Linked DNA regions of Homo sapiens: regions 2 and 3 are each reported to be linked to region 1. Evidence: microRNA targets listed by miRTarBase, many of them from high-throughput screens and not tested one by one. Region 1 holds a microRNA gene; each other region holds the end of a gene's coding sequence.

Region 1 (4,210 bases):
GAAAAGGGCAAAGTGTGTGACACAGCTCTCTCTTAAGGAAGTTCCTGGAGGATGCCTCAGGACATGAAATAAAATTGGCTAGTATTTAGTCATGTAGCCATACCTAGCAATAAGAGAAGCTGGGAAACATTGTCTTTATTCCAGATGAGTGTATGCCCAACTAAAAATCAGGGGTTCTATTACATAAGAAGATGAAGAAAATAAACACAACAGTCTGCCACAGCATCCCCAAATGCCCTTGCTCTCTCCCTCCTCTCCCAGAGCCCCCGTATTTATTTATATACACTGTCAGCCTAGCCCAGGGTCCTAACATGAATATCAAGAAGTGAGTATCTAAAAGACAAATGAGTGTTTCTCCAGCTAATACTGAAGATCCCTCTCAAAGCATAATTTCTGATGCTAACAAAGTCTTTCTCTTTTCTTTTCTTTTTTTTTTTTTTTTTTTTTTACAGAGTCTTGCTCTGTCCCCTAGGCTGGAATGCAGTGGCACAATCTTGGCTCACTGCAACCTCCACCTCCTGGGTTCAAGCAATTCTCCTGCCTCAGCCTCCCCAGTAGCTGGGATTACAGGCGAGTGCCACCATGACCAGCTAATTTTTGTATTTTTAGTAGAGACAGGGTTTCACCATGTTGGCCAGGTTGGTCTCCAACTGCTGACCTCAGGTGATCTCCCAAAGTGCTGGGATTACAGGCATGAGCCACCGTGCCCGACCTTGTCTCTTTTCTTTCTAAAGGCCCCTTCCCAGTAAGGATGAGGAAAGATGGTAGGGGTCTGGGGCCAGGGGGAATAGGGATCCTGGCCAGCCCCATATATTAATTAATGAAGCAACTGTTAGTGTGTCCAACACTGGCTCCTCTAATCCTTGCCCTAAAACATGGCACTACGATTACATTCAGTTAGCAGATGGGGGAAAAAAACAGACTCAGAAAGCTTAAGTGACTCACCCCAAGTCACACAGCTAGAAGTGGCAAGGACAGCAGGGCTGGTGTGGCAGCTGTCACAGCTCACCCCTGAGCACAAGGTCAGGTGCCAAGTTCCTGGTGGTGGCTCTTTAAACAGCAAGTCCCAGCATGTCCCCTGTCACCGGGTCTGCCTGTGGTCTGCAGCCTCCCTTGTGGAGACCCTGCTTGTCTGTCTTCCCTGCACCCACAGGAACAGGATCGTTTGTGAGCATGCCTGAGGGAAGCCAGGGTTGTGTTAAACTGTGGCTACAGCCGAGACCCGTGGACATTGTTCTCTTTCAGTTTGGAACTGGGCCTCACTCCAGAGCTCGGTGCCTGAGCCTGAGCCTCCACTCAGAGACAAGCTCATCAGCTGCAAGACAGTCAGGGAGGTGCAGGCAGCCCCCGCAGCTTGTGAATCAGTGAGTGAGCTTAGATATATAAAGAACCCCGGCAAATGATGAAAAACTTCTGCAGATGGCTGGTGGTGATGGTAGCACAATGTGAATGTACTGAATGCCACTCAACTGTACGTTTAAAAATGGTTAAAATGGTAAATGCTATGTTATGCATATTTTATCACAATAAAAAAACACCCCAAAACTTAGTGGCTTAAAAGAGCAATCATTTATCAGCCCATGATTCTGCAGATCTGCAATTTGGGCTGGGCTGGGTTGGGCAGTTCTTCTGCTGGACTCACCTGTGACCAGCTGGCAGGTCACCTGGGAACCGAATGGTCTAGGATGGCCTCATGCAGTGTGTCTGGTGGTTGGTGCTGGTTGTCAGCTGGGTGGCAGTGGTGACTGGGCCACATACCTCCACCTGCCTAACCCAGGCACATTCACATGTTGGCAGTTGTAAGGGTCCCAAGAACAGCGTGAGAGGGCAAATCTCAATGCACAAGCACTTTTCAAACCTCTGCTAATCATGGTTGATGGTGTCCCATTGGCCAAAGCAAGTCACCTGGCCAAACCCACAGTCAGTGTGGGAGGGAACTACACCAGGGACTGAATCCAAGGAGGTGTGAGCAAATGGAGTCACTACCACCAGTCACACAACTTGTCCATGAGTTATTGTTGCAACTATCAAGCCTGGGTGACTACACAGGTGCATTAATTTTCAAAACAGAAAAGAAAGCTGGTTGCCCAAATCAGCATCTACTTTAGCCATTGAAGACACGAGATGGCCCCAGGCAGGAGTGCAGTTTTCAAAAATGAAGGGAACATTCTAGCATGACGTCGTCTCTTGGAGATCCAGAACAGAACCCACATCCCCAGCTCTTGGGGCTTTCTGTGAAGTTTCGGAGAGCAAGCAGGGTGCCCCCAGCTCTTCCTGGTTGGTGGAAGCGCCAGCCTCTCCAAGTGCATCCACTTCTTAAAGGCAAATCGTGATTCCCAGGCCCTGCCCCATCAACACAGATATGCTAAAAGCAGGGTTTGAACTAGAGATGGGTGGTGAGAACCAGGCCAAAAAATGACTCCTTCCGCAGTGTACTGGATTTCCTTTCTGCCCTGTCCCCGGATAGAGCCCCAGAGGAGAACGGCTGTTTGCTTTCTTTCCAAAATGAGCTCAACTTTCCTTTGGGAAGAAGGAGGTGGAGTTGTCCTGCCCCCATTACTGAGCAAATCAAGAATGGAGGGCCAGCCTCTATACCCCGCCGGCTGACAAGGAGGGCAGCCATACCCACACAAGAGTCAGACAGTCTGGGTGACCCCATCAATCACCCCTGTGTGACCTTGAGCAAGTTACTTAGCCTCACATGGTCTGTTTCCTCATAGAAGTGCAACAACGACAAGATTAACCCCTCTTGAAGGGCCATCATGAGGATCCTATGCCCTAGCTCTTGCATGAGACAGTCCAGAGCACATAGAAGATGCTTACTAGCCACAGCTTGTCTTTTACGGTGGCTCTCTCCCAAGCCACAGGAGAAGAAAGCTTCTATGAGCTAGGCCAGGGTAACAGACCAACAAGGTCATTTGCAAACCCACATCTGGGCAGCAAATCTCACAGCCCTCCTTTCATCCAAAGGGCTTGATCATGGCAGCGGTGCTTCCACCCCCCTGACGCAAGAGAGACTCCCTCTGCCTTCCCCCGAAGCCATCACTAAGTCTCCACCTAACATTGTGTAAGGATGTCCCAACCATCCCTCCAAACCCTACTTCCACTGGCTGTGACAGGTGGCCAGACAGGAAGGAGGTATTACCTTGGTGTGAGAGTGGAGGGTTACAAGCTACCTTCAGGGTGCTACCTTGCAGGTTTCAGAAAACAGGCCAAGCCGCAACCCCATACACCACCTCTCCAGCATGCGGAAGCCGTGCTGCTGAAAGCATTTTGATTTTCCTCTTCCCTTGGCTTATCCTCTCCCCCTCAAATGCCATCTGCGGGGGAAATAGAAACAAGAGAGCATTTTAAAGACTTCTTGTGGTCTAAAAGCAGCAGTCCTCCAGGATGAAGCATCCTTAGGAAACCAATGACTGATTCTTTCAACCCTATTCCATGAAGCAGAACCCCCAAATCGTCCCCCTCTGATTTTACATCCCCTTGAGTTTGCCAGATTTTACCACCCAGCATCCTCCAGTGTCCCAAGCAGACCCGCAGCACACACCTGATTAAGCAGGTGCCAGACCCCCCCACCCTCACCCCGGGGCAGGTTTTGCGTGTTGACTCTCTCGGAACACTGCCCCTACCTGGTTCAGCTGGTTTATTGCAAGTTAATTGGTCTCATCCCTTCCCACTCCCCAACTCCATCACCCTTGGTTATTTATTGCTATGTACCAGTTACATAATGTTTTCTCTTTCGTTCATGAGGTAACAAAAATGTCTCTGCCTTTTTATTTTTTCTTAGACAGGGCTGGAGGGAGGAAAACAAGGGGTGACCCAGAAGTCTGCATGTCACCCTGGCCCTGAGGAACACTTAGAGATTCCCTCGCTTGGGTTCTGCCCCAGAGGATGGAAGAGATGAACTGCCACCTTTACCAGTCAAGCTGAGAAGGCTGCAGGCCCTCTGAGGTTCTGGGTGGGCTCCCGGCCTCCCCCTGGCTAGGGAAATATGGCCATTGGTAAACTGGGGAGAGAGGTACATGGACACAGGGCTGGGGTGAGGGGGCAGTAAAGGACCCTGATAAATCTGTCCTGGCTTTAAAGCTCCAAATAGGAGCTTGCCTTCATGGGCTCCTTCCTCCAGGTTCAGAAACCTGGACAAATAGCTCCCCACTTCCCAGGGTCAATGACCAAATCTGGATGGAGGGGGAGGGGAGAGCAGGCTGGG
Region 2 (4,210 bases), not on the chromosome of region 1:
CGAGTAGCTGGGACTACAGGTGCGTGCCACCACGCCCGGCTAATTTTTGTATTTTTAGTAGAGATGGGGTTTCACTATATTGGCCAGGCTGGTCTCGAACTCCTGACCTCAGGTGATCTGCCCGCCTTGGCCTCCCAAAGTGCTGGGATCACAGGCGTGAGCCACTGTACCCGGCCTATTAACATATTTTTTGCCTTTTGCATTTAGGTCTGGAGCCCATTTATAGCAGTGCTATCCAATAAAAATATGTTAGCTACATATGCAATTTTAAAATTTCCAGCAAACACATTTAAAAAGTCATCAAAATAGTTGAAATTCACTTTAATGATACTTTTGAAACCCAATATATCTAAAATATTATTTCAACACATAATCAATATAAAAATTAAGGTATTTAAAGTTGTTGTCCTCTTCCATGCTTCATACCTGGTGTTTCAGAGTCATGACACACTTGGTTTGGCTACATCTCAGTAGCCACACATGGCTGGGTGGCTGCTGCTGTGGACAGCATGGACCTAAAGTCCACTCTTGTAGGTGATGTTAAGAATGCAAATATATTTTTCTCTACATAATCCTATTTTTTTTTTTTTGAGACAGGGTCTCACTTTATTGCCTAGACTGGAGTGCAGTGGCATGATCTCGGCTCACTGTAACCTCTGCTTCCCAGGTTCAAGCAATGCTCCTGCCTCAGCCTCCCAAGTAGCTGAGACTACAGGCACATGCCACTACACCTGGCTAATTTTTGTAGAGATGGGGTTTCACCATGTTGCCCAGGCTGGTCTTGAACTCCTGAGCTCAAGTGACCCACTCACCTCGGCTTCCCAAAGTGCTGGGATTATAAGCGTGAACCACCATGCCTGGCCAAGTAATCCATTTTTTTTTTTTTTTTTTTTTTGAGATGGAGTCTCGCTCTGTCACCCAGGCTGGAGCGCAGTGGCGGCATCTCGGCTCACTGCAAGCTCCGCCTCCCGGGTTCACGCCATTCTCCTGCCTCAGCCTCCCAAGTAGCTGGGACTACAGGCGCCCGCCACTACGCCCGGCTAATTTTTGTATTTTTAGTAGAGACGGGGTTTCACCGTTTTAGCCGGGATGGTCTCGATCTCCTGACCTCGTGATCCGCCCGCCTCGGCCTCCCAAAGTGCTGGGATTACAGGCGTGAGCCACCGCGCCCGGCCCAAGTAATCCATTTTTATCTGCCATCTCTCTCCATTGATTTGTGCTGCCTGCATTTATTGTATTTTTGTGTCTAACTTGTCTCATAGCCCTCACCGCCCCATTCCATCCTGTTGTCTTTCCTGGAATTTTTTCTTTCTTCCACTCACAGCTGAAGGTGTTTTCTGACTTAATTCCTGACACTATGCTTCCCCTCTTCTATGTCCTGTTCTTAAGGAATCATGCCCTGAAGTCCTGCTGCCGCATATGCAGATGCTGCTCGGGGTCTTCAGTCTCACCTCTCCGTTGACAATGCCTGCCCCTACTGCAGGACTGCTTCAATTGGCTGTCCTATTTACACTTACGTGTCGTGTTAAAATAATCATTTCTCTATTAATTTCTCCATATACATTTCCTTCTGACATTTCCAATTATTGTTTCCCTTCAGTGCCCCCAGGCTTGCCAGCTTGGAGTGCAAATACCTAGATTCCCTGAGCACCCCCAAGGTATGACTGTCTCTTCAGTGGAGATTTTACAGTTGTATTTGAAGAAAAGATGCTGTGTAGTGCTGATGGATTCTTCCACTTAGTCCCATGACAGATTGTTCTAGTTACGCGTATCCACCTGTTGGCTGTGGAACAGTAAATCTACCCATCTTAAGGGGGAAATTATCCTGCAGGCTCTCTGGTCTACCGGTTTGGAGCCCACTCTGGGGCTGTGATGTGCTAGTTCTGGGCCTGCACACACCTAACTCGGTCTTCGTCATGACTGATGATAGGCCCGCAGTCAATGACTAAAGATGGGGCTGCCTTCCTGGAAAAACGGTTGTCTGTGTGTATAGGAAACAATGAAAGAACACGCTTTTCCTGTTGGAGGCCACCAAGGAGTGCCCACTTCCATCAACATCTGGAGACAAACACTGTGCCCTGAAAGCTCCGATTGCCAAACCAGAGACAAAGGAGAAGCCACCCGCTCCTTTCTAATACTTCATCAGATCCAGAAGGTAGTCTCAGCTGGGCATGGTGGCTCACGCCTGTAATCCCAACAGTTTGAGGCCAAGGTGAGAGAATCACTTGGGCCCAGGAATTCGAGACCGACCTGGGCAACATAGTGAGACCCCGTCTCTACAAAAAACAAACAGACTTAGTCGGGTATGATGGCATGTGCCTGTGGTTCAGGCTACTCGGGAGGCTGAGGTGGGAGGATTGCTTGAACCCAGGAGGTGGAGGTTGCAATGGGCTGTGATTGCGCCACTGCAGTCCAGCTTGGCTGACAGAGTGAGACTCTGTCTCAAAAAAAAAAAAAAAAAAGAATATATATTATCCTCTGTGTGTATATTTACATGCTTGGGCTGTAAAGTCACCTCATGGCTTCCCAGAGTGACTTCATTCTGTTGATCAGTTTATTGGAACCTGCCACTTCTCAGATCCCTGTCTGAGGTCCCTTGATCTACTGGAGAGCAGACGGCAAGTGGGGGCAGTAAGCACCCGCTGTGTGCTCAGCTTTCCACCACTGGGCTGAGCAGTGGCTGAGACTGGCTGGGGCTGTAGCAATGCTTCCCAGTCTTCCAATTTGAAAACAGTTTAGAGATCACAAGTGAAGAAAATTGTGCACCAGGGAAGGAGTCCCTCATTGCTTTTTAACATGAATACTGCTTGTTGACATCATCCCAACCCATGGTGAACTACTTTGGTTTAAAAAGAGGCTTGGCATTGGTCAACCCAGCACACTGGAGGTCACTGTCAGAGGGAAATGAGACCAGGTCAGGGAAGCTCTCAGTGTGACACGGCTCTTCAAGAGCTTGGAGGCTGGGGAAACGTGAGATGAAGGAGACCAGAACGGAAGGAGAGGACACAGGCTTGGGCAGAGAGGCTGTGGTCAGGAAAGCAAAGACACCCAGAGGCGGTGAGAGAAGCTGAGCTGTTTAATCACCTCCTTGGCCAGACTCAAGGCGGTGGCTGTCCCCGAACAACACACCTGGAAGCCATTGAGAGCAGCTGGAGATGGAGTGGCAGCTGGAGTTACAGGGTGGGGGTGGGGAGGGAGGGCTCCTGCGCCTCTGACTGTCATCTGGCACTTCTGCCCCCAGGGCCTGCTTCAGCTCTGAGAGGTTCCTGGCTGGTCTGAGGGGTGAGGAACCAGAAGGCAGAAGGCGAGTGCCCTCGCATGGCAGGAGAATGACCCTGAGGCAGGGGCAGCCACTCCCCACATGGCCTATGTTGAGGGTGCGGCACTGTCCACACCGTGGTGAGGGACAGAGGCACGAGGCTGGGGAAAGGGGAGAAGTCGGCGGGGGTGGGAGAGGGGGTTACCTGGGTCCCACCACCAGTCTGGAATTAAACAGCAGAAGAGAAGGGCTGCCCTTGGGAACATGGACTCGTCCCCAGTGACAGTTCCTGGTGATGGGTTGACCTTGGCAACAGACCCTAGCAGCAGGCAGTTGTCCTGACAAGAGGGCGGTCCCTGTCGACTGTCCCTGGCAGTTTCCTGAACGGAGGGAGGGAGTTGGCCTGGGACCTTGCCCCCAACTACTTGTTCTTCTTAAAGAAGCTGAAGCGTTTTTCTCGCTCTCGTTCTCTGCCGTCTTTGCTGCGGAGCACAACAGGCCCCTCAGCCCCGACGGGTGACACTGGGGGCATGGTCATGGCCCGGGTCATGCCCCGGGTGGTGCTGGGCACCACCGGCTCTTCAGGCTCTCCAGAGGCAGAAGACGCTGTGGCAATGGCTGCATTCACCACCCGTAGCCACGAGCTCATCTCTGCCTGTGGATGGAAAGACCCTCAATCAGCTTCAAGGACACTGTGCTGAGTTGGCCGCAGTGGACAGCAGGGAAGTGTAAGAGGAGGAGGCAGAAAGTGAGCTGACTGTTTCATGCTATTAGGAGAATGTGGCCGGCTTAGACAGGGAGTGCGGCCTGGTGCGGCCGTCGCACACATCCAGTCTTACCACAAAGGACAAGACCAGGAAAAAGAGGGAGGACAGGGAAAGAAGGGGAGTCTGCAGCTGGAAGCTTCTGGAATGGCACGGACAGAGAGGAACACGAAGGACAGCTCACCTC
Region 3 (4,210 bases), not on the chromosome of region 1:
TATGGTGTATATGTAACACATTTTCTTCATCCAGTCTATCATTGATGGGCGTTTAGGTTACTTTCATGTGGAATCTAAAAAAGCTGAACTTACAGAAGCAAAGAGTAAAATGGTGATTGCCAGCGGTAGCGGGTAGAGGGAGGTTGGAGAGATGTTGGTCAAAGGGTACAAAATTTCAGTTAGGAGAAATAAGTTCAAGAGGTGTATTGTACAACATGGTGACTATTGTGAATTATGTATACATGAAAATTGCTGAGAGAGTAGATTTTAAGTGCTTTCACCATAGATAAATATGTGAGGTCATGCATATGTTAATTAGCTTGATTTAGCCATTCCACAATGCATACATGTTTCAAAACATCATGTTATACCCCATAAATATACACAATTTTTATTTGTCAATTAAAAAAATAACATTTTAAAAGGCCCAGCCTGGCCTCTCTGGGTCACCAGGCAAAGCTACGCATAACTGAGGCTGGAAGACAAGTCTTGGGCTTGGACCCTCCAAAACACAAGGAAAGATCATCAGAGGTCTTACCTTCACCAATGAATTCAACCCCTACAGGCAAGACACAAAAGCACAGGTCACATGCCAAGGAGTGAGAGTCGGAGGTCCGAAATAGCTCCCAGAACCCAGCGCTCAGGAATACCACTGTGTATGGACACGTATATTGTGCGGTGACAGTCACTGTCAGGCACCTCAGAAGAGGACATCATGAAAACACATGGACACATAGAGGGGGAAAAAAAATACACTGGCGCCTACCAGAGGGAGGACGGTGGGAGGAGGGAGAGCATCAGGAAAAATAACTAATGGGTACTAGGCTGAAATACCTGGGCAATGAAATCATCTGTACAACGAACCCCCATGACACAAACTTACCGATGTAACAAACCTGCAGATGTACCCCTGAACTTAAAAAAAAAGAAAAGGACATCATGGGAGCCCAGGGCAAGAGATGGAACACCATCCTGGGAAGCCAGCATCCAGACAGGAGGCCTCTCTGGGGTGGCGCGAATGGGACAGAACACTTCCTTAGGATTGACACAGAACTAACACTGACCCACCGGCTTACTTTGGCCATTGTGCACATTCTTTGGCTCATTGTGACACCACCTGGTAGGCAGATCATAAAACTGTACCATGGGGTGGGCTACAGGTGGAGGAGACAGCGTTCTGCCTGCTTGGTGCAAGCAACCTCGCACAGGCAGCTAGGTGTGGTCTGCTCAAACTGGTTCTCAGAAGCCAAATCCTCCCCTCCTTTGTCTATTCACAAGAGTTAAGAAAAAGACTGCTTTCTCTGTTGATCTCAATAACAAAGGGGATGAGGCACTGCCTTGGCAAAGTCAAAATTGCAGTCACTTTCTGATTGTTAATGGAGAAAAGCAGGCGGCCTGCCAGGTGATGGAAAACACGCGGATCTTTCCTGTTTAACTTTGAAATGAATTATGTGATTGTTTTACAGAAGTAGTAACAGATTTGGCTTCCTTGTTGAGGCCACTGTTGAAAGTTGGTATTCTCCAAGCCTGCAACTGGGCAGAGTTTGTGTGTAATTAATAACTGAGAGTCCACTAAATGGGCACTCGGCCCTGTAAGCCATCACAGGTGAGCACGCTGGGGCAGTGATCATAAAGGTGACCCCTCTGAGATCAGGCTCTGGGCCAGAATGCATGAGAATCAGACAAAAAAAAAACAGAGGCAGAGTCCTCCTGCTAGGAAATCTAGAGCCTCCTTCTTTTTGGTCTTAAATTAACGTGGAACACAATTTTTAAATTTAAAATCACCCAGCACATCTAGTCAAGTAGTTCTCAGGTCTTCTTTTGTTAAAAGTTGCAGAGCCCATCATCCAAATGAATACTTAGTCAAGAAACCCTGGAAAGATGAACAAGAAACCAATAAAAATAATTACCTACCGGGGATTCAGGGGAGGAGAGGGCAGGGTGGAAGCAAGTTTTTTTTTGTTTTTTGTTTGTTTGTTTGTTTGTTTGTTTTGAGACAGAGTTCCGCTCTTATTGCCCAGGCTGGAGTGCGATGGCATGATCTTGGCTCACTGCAACCTCCGCCTCCCAGGTTCAAGCGATTCTCCTGCCTCAGCCTCCCAAGTAGCTGGGATTACAGGCATGTACCACCACACCCAGCTAATTTTGTATTTTTAGTAGAGACAGGGTTTCTCCATGTTGGTCAGGCTGGTCTCGAACTCCCAACCTCAGGTGATCCGCCTGCCTGGGCCTCCCAAAGTGCTGGGATTACAGGCGTGAGCCACTGCTCCCAGCCCAAGACTTCTTTTTTTATAGTTTTGACTTTTGAAGCATATACATTTCTTACCTCTTTAAAAAAGTAAGACCATTGGACGCCCCAAATGTGAAGCGGCTGAGAAGGGAGCTGCTCTGGCAGAAGGCGGTGGGAGAGGTGGAAGGGAGAGCCTAGCTACTCTGCCCTGTCCTCATCCCGGAGGCTCGGTTCCACTCCCACAGCTCTCAGCACTTGGACACCAATGGCCTGGCCCAATCCTTTGTTTTATAGATGGGGAAAAGGTGGCCCCCCTAGTTTGGTTCACTCTCTGGATCTCTCTTCCCATAGGACACATTCAGGAAGGGTTAGATACACTCCTCAGAAGACACAAAACACTCAATCCTTTTGAAAGATTTATTTTTAATTAAAAAATAAAAGTTATCTGAACATATCTGCATTGCAGTTTCAGGGATGGCACCTTAACCCATTTATGCCGAAGGTCACAAATGTTTTTTATGAAAAATCAGATCTTGGTGATGACCTTGAGCAGTAGGATAGAAATAACTCCCACAAGCTTAGGGTTCCAATAATGGAACCCTAGGCATGAATGGGTAAATGAAGCAAAAAACAAAACAAAACAAAAAAAAAACCAAAGCTTATCAGTTCTTGGGTCTTATGACCATCTTATAATGGGTACAAAGGCACACGTGTCTTCAAACAAACTTGATTCAGAAACATTTCTAACAACTCAGAACTACCCCCATGTTTTTGCCCACCCTCACCCCCCCAAAAAAATACAACCAAAAACATTAAATTCTTTTTTAAAACTACAGAAATAAGTGCTGAGTCAGCAAGGAACCTGGGCATGCTGCCCACATGCCGCCACGTCTCTCTGCTTTGATGACTGGCTGCCCAGAGGTCAGGAGGGAGAGAGCTAAGCACTTTCCACTGCATGCTAGGATATAGGGCTTGCAACATAGACCCAGCCCTACAGCCGTCACCCCAGCTGGGGCAGGCAGCTCCTAGGCGCTCTCTCCCTTAATCAAGGGCATCCACAGCTAAAGCAGCCTTTCAGGAGGTGACAGGCCCAAGACAAGCAAGTCTTTGTCAAATGCTTGCGATGACAAGGCCAATGGTAACTGTGGGAGGGAGGGAGACGGGTAGATCTCTTCGCCCGCAGTTTACTGGGCTGCTGGAAGGTTTTCTCTCCCTACTCTCCCTGCCTTCTCTCTTTTCCCTTCTCCCCAGTCTCCCTCTTCCCTCAAAAGGGTTTTACTTTAGCTTAATGGTGGGGGTTCCGAAGAGGGTATTGGCAACTCCTGGGGCGGGTCTGGTGGCTCTGCCATCTCTAAGGGGACATCACGTGCTTTCGGTTCCTGTGCTTCACAGAGCTCCTCCTGCCCCTGAGAGGGCTCCAGCTGCTCCTGACCCTGGGCCTGGCTGTTCATCTTCTCTTCAGCTTCAATCTCTTCTGATGTGGGGATGGAGTTCTTCTTGGGGCGACCTTTGGGTTTTGTGGGTGCTTCCTGTCCACCTTTAAGAACCTACGTGAGTAAAAAATTGTTATTGAATCTAAGAAATAATTCCTTCCCTCCACCTTTCCACTCCCAGTATAACCTCACGTTGCATCTAAACCATCTGTTCCAGCAGTGAAATTGCAGGATTTGGCAAAATATATTCTCAACCCATCACCTCTGGTCTACAAAGACACCTCCATTTTTTAAATGCTCAACGCATTTTTGGTCAACATTATATATTTTGGCATTTAATACAACAATCATAGGCAGCTTCAGAATTCAACTTCAACAATAAGGAAAGAAATGAAAATTAAAATGTTAATGCAATAACTATCAAGTTGACAAGCTAAAAAGACAACAATAATATTTGTAGCAAGCAGGAAAAAAAACACACTGTATGAAAGTGTGATTGTTACACACTTTTCAAGACAACCTGAGAGTTCAAGTCAAAAGCCTTAAA

Evidence for each region. The annotated mature microRNA hsa-miR-1587 reads UUGGGCUGGGCUGGGUUGGG and lies in region 1 at 1,602-1,621, shown strand. An mRNA with a match to its seed (bases 2 to 7 or 8) in the 3' UTR can be bound and repressed. Matches are read on the target gene's strand: a 7mer-m8 pairs with bases 2 to 8, a 7mer-A1 pairs with bases 2 to 7 and ends in A, and an 8mer does both.
Region 2: miRTarBase lists SPTBN2 as a target of hsa-miR-1587. Seed matches in the 3' UTR shown: 7mer-m8 at 2,666-2,672, 8mer at 2,499-2,506 and 7mer-m8 at 2,388-2,394.
Region 3: the mRNA of BARX2 is a reported target of hsa-miR-1587. Seed matches in the 3' UTR shown: 7mer-m8 at 3,419-3,425.

What each region holds. Positions count from the first base shown.
Region 1 is chrX:39,835,961-39,840,170 of GRCh38, forward strand. MIR1587 (microRNA 1587) reads left to right here and starts at 1,601; the gene lies at 1,601-1,653. RefSeq lists a silencer at 3,850-4,038.
Region 2 is chr11:66,682,191-66,686,400 of GRCh38, forward strand. SPTBN2 (spectrin beta, non-erythrocytic 2) reads right to left here. Exons shown (of 38, transcript NM_006946.4): 37 at 4,208-4,210; 38 at 307-3,914. The coding sequence ends at 3,681. Among named protein-coding and RNA genes, the nearest start is that of RBM4B, 6.4 kb to the left of the region's middle. RefSeq lists an enhancer at 3,588-4,088.
Region 3 is chr11:129,450,703-129,454,912 of GRCh38, reverse strand. BARX2 (BARX homeobox 2) reads right to left here. Exons shown (of 4, transcript NM_003658.5): 4 at 2,634-3,777. The coding sequence ends at 3,511. Among named protein-coding and RNA genes, the nearest start is that of BARX2, 77 kb to the right of the region's middle. RefSeq lists an enhancer at 1,095-1,596.